2 linked regions of the Homo sapiens genome follow. Each later gene encodes a partner of the first gene's protein in a complex. Each region holds a gene or a part of one and is shown in the gene's direction. Other genes may lie near its edges.

The links.
Region 2: the proteins of TIMM22 (region 1) and TIMM10 are in contact, whole or in part, in a cryo-EM structure (PDB 7CGP), measured with the Homo sapiens proteins. Residues at the interface, in NP_037469.2 of Homo sapiens: Tyr25 (codon at 3,962), Ser26 (codon at 3,965), Leu28 (codon at 3,971), Leu29 (codon at 3,974), Gln30 (codon at 3,977), Tyr31 (codon at 3,980), Leu32 (codon at 3,983), Val33 (codon at 3,986), Arg40 (codon at 4,007), Leu42 (codon at 4,013), Leu47 (codon at 4,028), Gly48 (codon at 4,031), Glu67 (codon at 4,088), Glu144 (codon at 5,717), Ser145 (codon at 5,720), Tyr146 (codon at 6,259), Gly148 (codon at 6,265), Ser150 (codon at 6,271); in NP_036588.1 of Homo sapiens: Pro3 (codon at 5,247), Ala6 (codon at 5,256), Gln7 (codon at 5,259), Leu9 (codon at 5,265), Ala10 (codon at 5,268), Ala11 (codon at 5,271), Leu13 (codon at 5,277), Glu14 (codon at 5,280), Val15 (codon at 5,283), Met17 (codon at 5,289), Met18 (codon at 5,292), Ala19 (codon at 5,295), Tyr22 (codon at 5,304), Ser44 (codon at 6,570), Lys45 (codon at 6,573), Gly46 (codon at 6,576), Glu47 (codon at 6,579), Arg53 (codon at 6,597), His62 (codon at 6,624), Glu63 (codon at 6,627), Gly66 (codon at 6,636), Leu69 (codon at 6,645), Thr70 (codon at 6,648), Ser73 (codon at 6,657), Met74 (codon at 6,660).

Annotation. Positions count from the first base shown.
Region 1 is NC_000017.11:993,254-1,000,202, forward strand, and holds the start of TIMM22 (mitochondrial import inner membrane translocase subunit Tim22), read left to right. Parts: upstream 1-3,875; 5' UTR 3,876-3,889; coding exon 3,890-4,127; intron 4,128-5,525; coding exon 5,526-5,722; intron 5,723-6,258; coding exon 6,259-6,331; intron 6,332-6,949. UniProt on the Homo sapiens protein: Essential core component of the TIM22 complex, a complex that mediates the import and insertion of multi-pass transmembrane proteins into the mitochondrial inner membrane. In the TIM22 complex, it constitutes the voltage-activated and signal-gated channel.
Region 2 is NC_000011.10:57,527,851-57,535,429, reverse strand, and holds TIMM10 (mitochondrial import inner membrane translocase subunit Tim10), read left to right. Parts: upstream 1-4,675; 5' UTR 4,676-4,772; intron 4,773-5,136; exon of another isoform or gene 5,137-5,195; 5' UTR 5,196-5,240; coding exon 5,241-5,311; intron 5,312-6,511; coding exon 6,512-6,713; 3' UTR 6,714-6,966; downstream 6,967-7,579.

The DNA of each region.
Region 1 (6,949 bases):
TGGGGAAAGTGATTCAGAGAGAAAAGCTAAGAGCCACTCCACCCTCACATAATCCACCTCACATAATCCACCCTCACATAATCCACCCTCACATAATCCACCTCACATAATCCACCTCACATAATCCACCCTCACATAATCCACCCCTCACATAATCCACCTCACATAATCCACCCACACTCACATAATCCACCTCACATAATCCACCCTCACATAATCCACCCTCACATAATCCACCTCACATAATCCACCCTCACATAATCCACCCTCACATAATCCACCCTCACATAATCCACCTCACATAATCCACCCTCACATAATCCACCCTCACATAATCCACTCTCACATAATCCGCCTCACATAATCCACCCTCAAATAATCCACCCTCGCATAATCCACACTCACATAATCCACCTCACATAATCCACCTCGCATAATCCACCTCGCATAATCCACCCACCCTCACATAATCCACCTCGCATAATCCACCCTCACATAATCCACCCTCACATAATCCACACTCACATAATCCACCTCACATAATCCACCTCACATAATCCACCTCACATAATCCACCCTCACATAATCCACCTCACATAATCCACCCTCACATAATCCACCTCACATAATCCACCCCTCACATAATCCACCTCACATAATCCACCTCACATAATCCACCCCTCACATAACCCACCCTCACATAATCCACCTCACATAATCCGCCCTCACATAATCCACCCTCACATAATCCACCCTCACGTAATCCACCTCACATAATCCACCTCGCATAATCCACCCACCCTCACATAATCCACACTCACATAATCCACCTCACATAATCCACCTCACATAATCCACCCTCACATAATCCACCTCACATAATCCACCCTCACATAATCCACCTCACATAATCCACCCTCACATAATTCACCCTCACATAATCCACCTCACATAATCCACCCTCACATAATCCACCCTCACATAATCCACCCTCACATAATCCACCCTCACATAATCCACCCACATTCACATAATCCACCTCACATAATCCACCTCACATAATCCACCCTCACATAATCCACCCCTCACATAATCCACCCTCACATAATCCACCTCACATAATCCACCCTCACATAAGACTGTGCAGCTGTCTGGTCTCCATTTCTGCCGGGTGGGGTATTCCATCCTCATCTCGGGCAACATGTCCCAAAAGTATGGTTTCCAGTATGGCTCCTTAGGTCCCACCCATTTCTTCTCTGGGACCCCAAAGACCCAACCCCCACCTTTTTTTTCTTTTTTTTGACACGGAGTCTCCGTCTGTCTCCAGGCCGGAGTACAGTGGCACCATCTCGGCTCACTGCAAGCTCCGCCTCGTGGGTTCAAGCGATTCTGCTGCCTCAGCCTCCTGAGTAGCTGGGACTACAGGGGTGCAGCCACTATGCCTAGCTAATTTTTGTATTTTTAGCAGAGACAGGGTTTCATCATGTTGGCCAGGATGGTCTCGATCTCTTGACCTTGCTTCAGCCTCCCAAAGTGCTGAGATTACAGGTGTGAGCCACCGCGCCCAGCCAAGACCCTTAAAAGAAGGACACTTCACTTCCTCTTACAACTCAGACATACCTGTGAGGCTCCTGGGCTATGGAACACCCCAGCCCTTTCGCAGCCCTTGATGGAAATTGTTTTTCAGCCCTCTGAATAAAATGACCACTGTTTACTTAATCTTTTTTTTTTCTTTTTTTTGAGACAGGGTCTCGTTCCCTCGTCCATGCTGGAGTGCAGTGGCACGATCATGACTCACTGCAGTCTCAACTTCCCAGACTCAAGCAATTTTCCTGCCTCAGCCTCCCAAAGTGCTGGGATTACAGGTGTGAGCCACCATGCCCAGCAGAGGAATCTTTTCCGATCAACATCTTCTGAGAGTCCCTGGCCCAAGTAGGCAGATGCTTGCTACGGCACTGCCTTCAGGCCATTAGCAAAAAGTGTGCTTAAATGCCCAGAGGTGTTCCCAGGCCACGTTTTGTTCATACGAGGAGTACAAAATGATGCCAAAGTGTTAGCATTCTTGGGACTGAAAACCTCTCTCCAACATCCCCTAGGATTTTCCTGGATATGACCAGAAATCCATTCCCAATTTCTCTGCCTCCAGGCCCCAATTCTGGTTTCCTCAAAGAGGAGGAAGTGTTCTTGGTTCCCAAAATATGCTTGCAGTGCAGTGGTATAATGGTAAATGTTTAACAACAATAACAAAAAGGCCCTAACTGGCCGGGCGCAGTGACTCACGCCTGGAATCCAAGCACTTTGGGAGGCCGAGGTGGGTGGGTCACCTGAGGTCAGGAGTTTGAGACCAGCCTGGCCAACATGGTGAAACCTTGTCTCTACTAAAAATACAAAAATTAGCCGGGCATGGTGGCATGTGCCTGTAATCCCAGCTAGTCGGGAGGCTGAGGCAGGAGAATCGCTCAAACCCGGGAGGTGCAGGTTGCAGTGAGCGGAGATTGCACCACTGCACTCCAACCTGGGTGACAGAGCAAGACTCTGTCTCAAAAGAGTAATTTTAAAAAGTAAGGCAACAAATTATCAGGAGTTTTTGAGCTGGTTGTTAAGCACAGTTATTATTAAAAATTACATTCTATACATTTATAATAAATTACACTAAAAATAGGTAATATGTGCTCAAAACTCATCCCCTCCTAAAAATTTTACTACACTGTACTCCTATCTATGCTGTTGAGGTTATTTCCATAGATTGTATCTGTGTGATAGAAACACCATGTAACCACATGCTGCTGTACGTCTTCCCAATTCTGACTGATGACCTCGCTTGGTAGTTTGAAATCAGCCATGATGGGGATATTAACACCACACAAGTCAGCAAATGCTGTCAGTTAGGATTTTTTTTTTTTTTTTTTTTTTTTTGAGACGGAGTCTTGCTCTTGTCGCCCAGGCTGGAGTGCGATGGTGCGATCTTGGCTCACTGCAACCTCCACCTCCCGGGTTTAAGAGATTCTCCTGTCTCAGCCTCCCGAGTAACTGAGATTACAGGCGCCTGCCGCCACCTGGCTAATTTTTATATTTTTAGTAGAGACGGGGTTTCCTGCTTCAGCCTCCTAAGTAGCTGAGAATACAGGCGTGCACCACCATGCCCAGCTAATTTTTTTATTTTTTATTTTTTTAATTTTTAGTAGAGATGGGGTTTCACCATGTTTGTCAGACTGGTCTCGAACTCCTGACCTCGTGATCCACCGGCCTCGGCCTCCCACAGTGCTGGATGACAGGCGTGAGCCCCCGCGCCCGGTCCGTGCATTTACAGCACAAGTTCACGCTTATCTACAAAGCATCCACCTCTCACCGCACCTTCCGGGACCACGGGATTTAACGCCTCACCGCCCGATGACAGCACGAGGTGGAAAGGGCAGCGACAATGCTCGCGCGTCCCCTCCCGGCGATCCGGAGCACGGCAGCCCCGGAGCGCGCGGCCACTCCTCGCTCCCCTCAGGAGCTCGTAAGAGCCCCGCGCGGGGCCGAGGCGCGAGAGCACGCGCAACGCTTCCTGGGAAATGTAGTTGGGTGTCGGATTAGAACTACAAATCCCGGTACTCACCGCGCTGCAGCCCCGACCGTGAGGGCGCTTTCTGGTGAATCTGAATCTCGTTTGTCTGTGACATGGGGAAAGCTGTCCAAGCCCAATTCCATTTTCACAAGAGGCTTTCTTTTTGGAAACATGATAGCGGTCTCGCTGGTGTGCGCACCAGGAGCGTTGCGGCCGCGGCTTCCTCCTGCGGCGAATCTGCCGTTGCATCACAGTGGCTAGTCTCAGGGCCCGCAACGTGACGCTTGTCGAATCTGCTGCGGGGAGAAGGACGCGAGGGTTGCTTGGGCAGCGACTGTCATGGCGGCGGCCGCCCCCAATGCCGGAGGCTCGGCCCCTGAGACAGCGGGTTCCGCCGAAGCTCCGCTGCAGTACAGCCTGCTCCTGCAGTACCTGGTGGGTGACAAGCGTCAGCCCCGGCTCCTGGAGCCTGGGAGCCTGGGCGGGATCCCAAGTCCAGCCAAGAGTGAGGAGCAGAAGATGATCGAGAAGGCGATGGAAAGCTGCGCTTTCAAGGCTGCGCTGGCCTGCGTGGGAGGTGAGGCCGGGCGATGGGACCCTTGGGAGGCTGAGGGCCTGGACGGCAGTGGGGATCTCTGCCGAGAAGACCACGCGCCTGGGAGGCGAGGGACTGCGGGCCTTGACCTTGACCACACCCTCGCCTCGTTCGTGAATCGGGCGTCACCTCTCCTGCCCCCTCAGGCCGGCTTTCCTGATGAAAATTGGGTTAGAGAATCGGTGCTGTGGTTGGGGCCTGAAAGTTATTACATGACATCCTGGCTAACACGGTGAAACCCCGTCTCTACTAAAAATACAAAAAATTAGCTGGACGTGGTGGTGGGCGCCTGTAGTCCCAGCTATTCGGGAGGTTGAGGCAGGAGAATCGCTTGAACCCAGGAGGCGGAGCTTGCAGTGAGCCGAGATGTGCCACTGCTCTCCAGCCTGGGCGACAGAGCGAGACTCCGTCTCAAAAACAACAACAAAAAGTTATTACGTGGGTGACTTCATTCATCCGTTCATTCCCTTAAATTCATTCTCTTAAATAATTCTTTCAACAAATTGTTCCTAAGCAATATCACGTGCCAGGTGAAAGAGACAAGAGCCTGGTCTTCATGGGGCCTGTATTATACTATGTGGAGAAGAATGTTGAGCAGGAACACTGCAGAGGAAGGATGCAGACATATGGAAATGCACATGCAGACGACTCTAGGGCAGCAGTTGTTTGAGGTTTGAAAAACTGAAAGACCATTGTGACTAGACAGCCCCGAGCAAGGAGAGACGAAGTCTGCACTTGTCCTTCTGTTTTTCCCTTAAGTTGAAGGGGAGGTGCCCATGATTTTATTAAACTCATATTGACCATGAGGTCATGAGAGGGCATCCATCTGGACATGTCCAGCCGGCTCAGGAAGGACAGATGTGGCAGCAGTGTGGGATTTGCCATTAGGTAGCTGTGTGGCCTTGGGAGAAGTTGCTTAACCTCTCTGAGCCTCAGTTTATAGAAAGGAGAGGCTAATAGCATCTGTCTCACTGGATTATTGTGAAGAATGAATGAGGCTGTGGCATACTGGCATGTGCTCAGTAAAGCATTACTGTGAATGTCACAGTGGCCAAGAGAGTGATTTGCAAAGTTGATAGCTGAAGTTGAGGGTGGCTGGTTTACATATGAGAGAATGTAGAGAGAATAGAGGGTTAAAGATGGAATCTTGAGAAATGTTAGGGAATGACAGGAGGAAGAAATCTTAGAGACGGAGAAGATGATGTCAGTAACATAGACCCTGGATTGCAAGTCTCCAGGCAAGTGGAGAGTTTGAGTGGCAAGAGGGGGGTGTCCTCTGCACCGGTGGTCATCCAAAAGCATGGTCCCTTCCAGGATGATCCCAATAGAGTAATGCAGAAAACATGCCAAAGACACCTTCATCTCTGTGTTTGCTTCTAGGATTTGTCTTAGGAGGTGCATTTGGGGTGTTTACCGCTGGCATCGATACCAACGTGGGCTTTGACCCTAAGGATCCTTACCGTACACCGACTGCAAAAGAAGTGCTGAAAGACATGGGGCAGAGAGGAATGTCCTATGCCAAAAATTTCGCCATTGTGGGAGCCATGTTTTCTTGTACTGAGTGTTTGATAGAATCTGTAAGTGTCTCTGCCTTCTAAGAAATCCTTGCTGGGGCCACCATTTCATTACTTTTAAAGAGAAATTGCTCTTTAAAAGTCATTTGAAAGTTGTTACTAGAAAGCAAATCAGAAGCATCAGATACATTCTAGGTTGAACTTCCATAAAATAGTCCCTGTGGCAGACTTTGTGTGTGTTTACAGTATGGGCTTGCATTATTTTTTACTTTTTGTAGGCTAGAAGTTAGCTAATGATTTTAAACGAGACTTATTGGAGAGCCCCTTGAAGAAATTTTGATTACATTCCAAATGCTGGGCTTGGTTTCAGCACTCTGGTGCCACCTGCAGGAAGCATCTATGAACGCATACTATATATATATATATATATATATATATATATATATACACGCTGTATACTTAGGAACTATATTTTCAAGAAAGATTAGGTTTCCTTTGGGTAGGGACTGAATGAGCTAACGAGCAACCCTGTGTATTCCTCCTTAATGGTCTGCCTTGGCTTGTTTCTTTGGCTCTAACGTGTACTTCCCTGCCCACAGTACCGGGGAACATCAGACTGGAAGAACAGTGTCATCAGTGGCTGCATCACGGGAGGAGCTATTGGTTTCAGAGGTTAGTAAACGGCTCTCGAATGCTTTTTCTTTGTGGCCTTGGACAACGTGCTGAGGTTGTCATTTCCAAACACACGAGTGTTCCAGGGACACTTGATCTTCTTCCCTCTGACAAATAAATCATGTTTGTTTCTGTGGTAACTCGGTTTTGGAAACTTGTAGGATCTAGATGAGGGTTTCCCATCGTTGGCACTACTGACATTTCGACCAGACGAATCTTTGTCGGGATTGGGTCTGTTTTGTGCATTCTAAGACGTTGAGCAGTATCCCTGGCCTCTACCCACGAGATGCAAGTAGCACCCCCGTCCGTTGTAACAACTTTTTTTTTTTTAAAGAGACCGAATCTCACTCTGTCGCCCAGGCTGGAGTGCAGTGGCACGATGTCAGCTCACTGCAACCTCCACCTCCTGGGTTCAAGCGATTCCCCTGCCTCAGCTTCCCAGGTAGCTGGGATTACAGGCACCCGCCACCATGCTCAGCTAATTTTTATTTTTTTAGTAGAGATCAATTTCACCTGGTCTCGAACTCCTGACCTCGTGATCTGCCTGCCTCAGCCTCCCAAAGTGCTGGGATTACAGGCATGAGCCACCACGTGTGGCCAACATTTTTCTCAGTAATT
Region 2 (7,579 bases), on another chromosome or scaffold:
ACGATGAATGACAAATATACAACTCACCTTTGCAAGGTTGGGAAGGGGTAGAATGCAGGGTAGAATGAGGAGCCAGAGTTTCAGCATGGTGTTGACAGAGATCAGTAGCTTTGGATGACATATCTGGAGTCTAAGGATATCTTCAAAGTCTGAGGCTATCTAAACTGTCTTCTACAAGAAGCAATTCAACTGGGACCATTGGAGATTCCTACCTGTAGGTCTCCACATAGAGGAAAGACACAGTCTCATAGTAAATAATCATAATAACAATAGCATCATCATCAATAAGAGCAATGGTTTTCCAGAGGCTGAGCAGCTGGGGAGATGGAGAGTTGCTGTTCAATGGGTATACAATTTCAGTTATGCAAGATGAATAAGTTCTAGAAATCTGTGTACAATATGGTACATATAGTTAACAATACTATTTTGTGCACTTAAAAATTTGTTGGCCGGGCGCGGTGTATAAAGCACTTTGGGAGGCCAAGGCAGGTGGATCATGAGGTCAGGAGACTGAGACCATCCTGGCCAACATGGTGAAACCCCATCTCTACTAAAAACACAAAAATTAGCTGGGTGTGGTGGCATGCGCCTGTAGTCCCAGCTACTTGGGAGGCTGAGTCAGGAGAATCCCTTGAACCTGGGAGGCAGAGGCTGTAGTGAGCGGAGATCGTGCCACTATCCTCCAGTCTGGTGACAGAGCGAGACTCCGTTTAAAAAAATTTTTTTTGTTAAGCAGGGCCCAGTGCAGTGACTCATGCCTGTAATGCCAGTGCTTTGGGAGGCTGAGGCAGGAGGATCGCTTGAGGCCAGGAGTTTGAAACCAGCCTGGACAACATAGCAAGACCCTATCTCTACAAAAAATTTTAAAAACCACTCAGGCATGGTGGCTTGCGCCTGTAGTCCTAGCTATTCAGGAGGCTGAGATGGGAGGATTGCTTGAGCCCAGGAGTTTAAGCTAACAGTGAGCTATGATTGGGTCTCTGCACTCCAGGCTGAGCGACAGAGACCCTGTCTCAAGGAAAAAATAAATAAATAAAAGGGCTTTATCTGTTAGAGATAAAAATAGATGAAGAAAATATGGACAAATGTTAACAATTCCTAAGTCCTGGTGATGAATATATGGAAGCTCAATGTCCTGTTCTCTCTGCTTTTCTGTATGTTTTAAATATTCCATCTGGGCATGGGGTGGCTCATGCCTGTAATCCCAGCACTTTGAGAGGCCAAGACAGGAGGATTGTTTGAGCCCAGGAGTTTGAAACCAGCCTGGGAAACATGATGAGACCCTATCTCTTAAAAAAAAAAATTAGCCAGGCATGGTGGCTCATGCCTCTAGTTCCAGCTACTTAGGAGGCTGAGGTAAGAGGATTGCTTAAGCCAAGGAGTTCACGATTGCAGTGAGCACTGATCATACCATTGCACTCAAGCCTGGGTGACAAGGCAAGATCCTGCCTCAAAAATCCTAAGTAAAAATAAAAATAAATTTGCCCCAGTGAAAGTTTAAAAATGAAAAAGAATGAAAACAATGATTTATTTTTATTGAGCATCTACCATGGACTAGGTACTTTACTTACACAATCTTTTATATAAATATTTTTCTTTCTTTCTTTATGGCCAGCTCTTACTCATACTTGTATAATCTTATTTGTTTTCTTTTTTGTAGAGATTTTTAAAACTTTTTATTTAGAAATAATTATAGTTTCACAGGAAGTTGCATTAATAGTACAGAGAGGTCCTGTACGCCCTTTACCAACTTCCACTAAAGGTTAAATCTAACATAACTATATTCAATATCAAAGCCAGATAATTTATATTGGTACAATGTGTGTGTGTAGTAGTTCTATGACTTTTTTTTTCTTTCTTTTTTTTTTTTAGACCGAGTCTTGCTCTGTCGCCCAAGCTGGAGTGCAGTGGCACAATCTCGGCTCACTGCAACTTCTGCCTCCCGCCTCCCGGGTTCAAGCGATTCTCCTGTCTCGCCCTCCTGAGTAGCTGGGACTATAGGCGCATGCCACCACACCCGGCTGATTTTTTTTATTTTAGTAGAGACGGGGTTTCACCATGTTAACCAGGATGGTCTCGATCTCCTGACCTCGTGATCCACCCGCCTCGGCCTCCCAAAGTGTTGGGATTACAGGTGTGAGCCACCGCGCCTGGCTTTTTTTTTTTTTTTGAGACGGAGTCTCACTCTGTCGCCTGGGCTGGAGTGCAGTGGCACGATCTCGGCTCACTGCAACCTCCACCTCCCGGGTTCAAACGATTCTCCTGCCTCAGGCTCCTGAGTAGCTGGGGTTACAGGTGCCCGCCACTACCCCCAGCTAATTTTTTGTATTTTTAGTAGAGACGGAGTTTCACCAACAAGGCTGGTCTCGAACTCCTACCTTGTGATTCGCTCGCCTGGGCCTCCCACAGTGCTGGGATTACAGGCGTGAGCCACCGCACCCTGCCAGTTCTATGACATCTTATCACCTGTGTAGATTCTTGTAACCACCACCACAATCAGGATACAGAATTATCCATCAACACAAAGATCTCTCTTGTGCTACCCTTTACAGGTACACTTCTATCTCCCCATCAACCCTAACACTAGACAATCAGAAATCTCTTCTCCATCTCTATAATTTTGTGATTTTGAGAATGTTACTTAAATGAAATCATACAGTATGCAACCTTTCATAAGGCCCAGTAGATATTGCAAGATTCCTCTTGTAAGAAACCATCTCCTTTTCCCACGCAGTTTCTTAACTTTCCATAATGTTTCTTTTTTGCGGGGAGTGGGGGGTCGGAGTTTCACTCTTGTTGCCCAGGCTGGAGTGCAATGGTGCGATCTTGGCTCACTGCAACCTCTGCCTCCCGGGTTCAAGTGTTTCTCCTGCCTTAGCCTCCTGCTTAGCCTCTTGAGTAGCTGGGATTACAAGCACCCGTCACCACACCGGGCTACTTTTTTGTATTTTTAGTAGAGATGGGGTTTCACCAAGTTGGCCAGGCTGGTCTCGAACTCCTGACCTCAGGTGATCCACCCACCTCAGCCTCCCAAAGTGCTGGGATTACAGGCGTGAGCCACTGCACCCGGCCAATGTTGACTATATTTTCAAAGGCAAAAACCAAGGCAAGATATGTCCATCTGTACAAGAGTATCATAGCAGCATTATTGCATAATAGGCAAAAACTGGAAACAATCCAAACATCCACCAACGGGAGAATGGATAGATGAATTGTGGCATACTCATACAATCAAACACTAGACAGCAATAAAACAGAAGGAATAACAGATGCACACAACAATATGGAGGAAATCTTACAGGTACATTGAGCTAAAGAAGTCAGGCACAAAATAGAAAATAATGTATAATTCCATTTACACGAAGTTCAAGAACAAGGAAAACTAATTGATGGTGATAGAGGTCAGAATAGTGGTTAACTTCGAGAGGGGGTATTGATGGGGAAGGAACACAAGATAACTTTTTGGGGTGCAGGAAGTATTTTATATCTTGATCTGGATGGCGGTTATACAAATGTACATATATAGATACATATATATTTAATTAAGCTTAACATTCGTGTATTTTATGCACTTTATGAATGTTATACCCCAATCTTTAAAAATCAGGGCACAAGTTTGGCAAAGATGAGTCTTCAAAGCAGTAGAAAGGTCAATTGTTTAAAATTAGGATGGTCTTGGACAATTAGGGAAGCTTATGATGACCACACAGAAAATGTCTAGCCCACCTTTTCCAATGGGCAATGTGCCCTTGCGTCATTAATTTACATCTTGTAAATTTATTTTACCAGGAAATTGTGTGACAAATCAAGGGACTGAGTATTGTTTCCTTGTTTCCTTCTTTTTAGTGGGGAATGAGTGAATGGTGCAGTTTGAAGAACACATTAAGTCTTGAAAGTTGGAAAGTTCACCAGTACCCTTCTTTCCCTCACCCAAGATTAGCCCTGGTGGCAGCCGAAATTGCTTTTATTATCTCTTTGTGGCTGAGGACCTCTAACTGTTGAAGAAAACATATTTTACACGTCTTGTCTTTCTGCGAACAGGAAGCCTATCTCGCTTATCTTTGCAACCCCAGACGGGGCTTAGTGTGACCTACACACAGCAGTAATCGCACAACGTCCCGTGGAGCACTGCTTCTCAAATTTGGCTGTACATACGAATCACCTGGGGAATTTTAAATTGTATTGCTGCCTGAGGAATTTTAAACTGTACTCCCAGAGATTCTGATTTAATTGAAATGAGGTGAGTCCTGGGCACTGGGATGTTTAAAAACGTTCCAGGTGATTTTAACGCGAAACAAAAACAGAACCGCTGTTTGGGGGCGTTCTTCCTTCTCCACGCCTGATTTGCGCACAGGAGTCGGCTGTCTGGAACGGGGGTGAGGTTCACAGGTGTCTGTCGCCACGCCTCTTCCTACAGAACCAATAAACTGAAGCCGCTCGGTGACATCCCAAAGGACTTGAATTCTGATCGGGCTGCAGACGCTCTGCACCCCGCCCAAGCTTCTATGGTACTTTGGTGTCCTCTCTAGCACTGGCAAGTCGCCTTCCTCTTCGCCCGGCGCCAGCCGCTCCCTCTCTATGATCGCCGAGTTCCCGGCGCCGTCTCGTTGGTATTTAATTCCGGAAGCGAGTTTGAATCAAAGAAGAGGCGGGACTTTCCTCCCGGAAGTAACCCACGTGCTTCCGCTGGAGCCTCTCGGGAGGCGGGTAACGTTATAGTATTTGTCAGAAGTTGGGGTCTCCGTGGGCATTGTGATCCGTCCCAGGCAGTGGTAAGTGACACATGACCTCTGAATTCAATGTGGCCCTGATGATGGCGTCGCCATTTCAGAGGTGTAGCCTTTGGGCTGGGTCCCGGTCGCCTCTGTTCAGCGTATGATCCCATTCCCAGGGCCCTGGAGGTTCAGGTTCGTGGGTTAGAGAGTTCTCCTCCGGTCCTCGATCTCCTGAATAGAGGTGACCTCCAGGAACTGGGGCATCAGAGATCCGGGGCTCGATTTCCAGGCTCGCCATAGACGTCCTGTGCGACCTTGGGCTAGGCCTCAGTTTCCACATCCGTGAAATGGGGTGGTTAAGCTCACTGAGGTTAGTGGCCCGTGGTGGTCTGGCGCCCTGTGAGTCCTCTGTATCCTCTAGCCCCAGGGGTAGGAGAGTGAACGGCGGCGGTGGGTGCTGATGGTGATGTCTGCTCCCAGGATTAGGAGGCCAGAAGGAGATCCCTTCCACGGTGCTAGGCTGAGATGGATCCTCTCAGGGCCCAACAGCTGGCTGCGGAGCTGGAGGTGGAGATGATGGCCGATATGTACAACAGGTAAAGAGAACTATGTGCTACCCTGTCTTGGAAAATAAGTCTTGGTCACCCTTATCGAAGGTGAATGACTTATGACAAATTCCTTCCTGAATGTAGGGGAGCCTGAGGCCCATGCTTACCCTCCCCACACCCACCTTCAAGGTTGATCCTAATGTAGATGCAGTAAAGGGTCACTAGAATGAGTTGGGCATTTAGATGGGGATGGAACTGGCAATGCAGGAGCCAAGCAGGAAGAGAAACTCCAATCCAGGCTCTGGTTAGGTTCCAAGAAAAGCTGAGTATTTGCCTCTTGACAAATAGCACATAGCCAGCCCATTTAGTAGTTAACATTTTAAAACCCTTTATTCTGTGTCAGGCACTTGTTAATCTTCAAAATAATCCAGTGGGTTAATTTTATTAGTCCCGTCTTAAAATGAGGAAATTGATGATTCTAGAGGTTAAGTAACTTCCTTAGGGTCGGCAGCTGGTCAGTAACAATGCCAGAACTAGCACCTCAGTCTGATTCTGCAACTAGTGCTCATAACCATTTGGCAAATTTGGGAACAAATCCTGGCTCCACCAATCACCAGCAGTATAATTGGACATGTTACTTGCACTGTTTGACAATTGGTTTCCTCATTATGAAGAAGACATAATGATACCTACCTCATAGGACATCATAAATATTAAATCTAAAAATATATGAAAGCCCTTAGCCTCAAGCCCAACACTTAGTGAAATGTCTGCTATTTTTATTGGCTTAAGCTCTCTTGATTGGTTGGTTTATCCTGAAGGCTATAAATTAGAAGGATTTTTAAGTGTAGACTGTGAGGTCAGATGACCTGGCTTCATAACCCAGCTCTGTGTGATCCTTAGAAAATTACTGAGCCTCTGTTTGCCTTAATTTCCTCATCTGTAAAATGGGGATACATGTCTCTTAGGGTTATTGTAAGCATTGCATAACAGAATGCAGGTAAAGCACTTAGCAGGATGCCTGGCATGTAGCCAGTCCTCAACAAATGGTTTCTACTTAGTTAGTCATATACATGGACTTAGACAAGTTTCCTACTTGCAAGGACCTTCCAGTGGTTGAGGTGTAAACTGAGGATTTACACTGCTTTCTTGGGGGAGGTGAAATCAATATAGCAGGGCTGGAATGGTCAAGGTTCCTGGGATGTCACAGGATGCTGCTGACATGACCTTGCCCCTCCCTCCCTCCAGAATGACCAGTGCCTGCCACCGGAAGTGTGTGCCTCCTCACTACAAGGAAGCAGAGCTCTCCAAGGGCGAGTCTGTGTGCCTGGACCGATGTGTCTCTAAGTACCTGGACATCCATGAGCGGATGGGCAAAAAGTTGACAGAGTTGTCTATGCAGGATGAAGAGCTGATGAAGAGGGTGCAGCAGAGCTCTGGGCCTGCATGAGGTCCCTGTCAGTATACACCCTGGGGTGTACCCCACCCCTTCCCACTTTAATAAACGTGCTCCCTGTTGGGTGTCATCTGTGAAGACTGCCAGGCCTAGGCTCTCTGTAGAGAGTCTTCAAGATCCCGGAGTGGTAGCGCTGTCTCCTGGTGAAGGAGTATTTGTCACACTGGAATGTGACTGTGTGTGTATGTATGTGTATATATATATATATATATATATATATATATATAAACAAGTTTGTTGACACCTACTATGTGCAAAGCAGTGTGCTTGGCATTTGAGAGTAAAGAAAACAGACACAGCCCCTACCAGCAGAGGGAGATTAATGAGTGTTTAAGAGTAAGACAGGCCGGGCAAGGTGGCTCATGCCTGTAATCTCAGCACTTTGGGAGGCTGAGGTGGGTGGATCACTTGAGGTCAGGAGTTCAAGACCAGCCTGGCCAACATGGCAAAACCCCGTCTCTACTAAAAATACAAAAATTAGCTGGGTGTAGTGGCGGGTGCCTGTAATCCCAGCTACTCAGGAGGCTGAGGCAGGAGAATCGCTTGAACCCAGGAGGCGGAGGTTGCATGAGCTGAGATTGTGCCACTGTCCTCCAGCCTGGGCAACAGAGTGAGACTCCATCTCAAAAAAAAGTAAGACAGCTTAGGTTTGCCTGCTGTCTGCTGCTTTTTGTGTGGCCCTGCACCTGTCACTTTTGTGTGCTTTAGCTTCCGCATCTGTAAAATAGGGTTAGCCCCCTGACTAATCCTGTTTTACAGATGAGCAAGCTGAGGATTTAAGAAGTAAGTTGCTTGCTGGAGCAAGCTTGCTGGAGGTCACACAAGCAGAACAATACCATGGAGGCCAGACCTGACTGCTG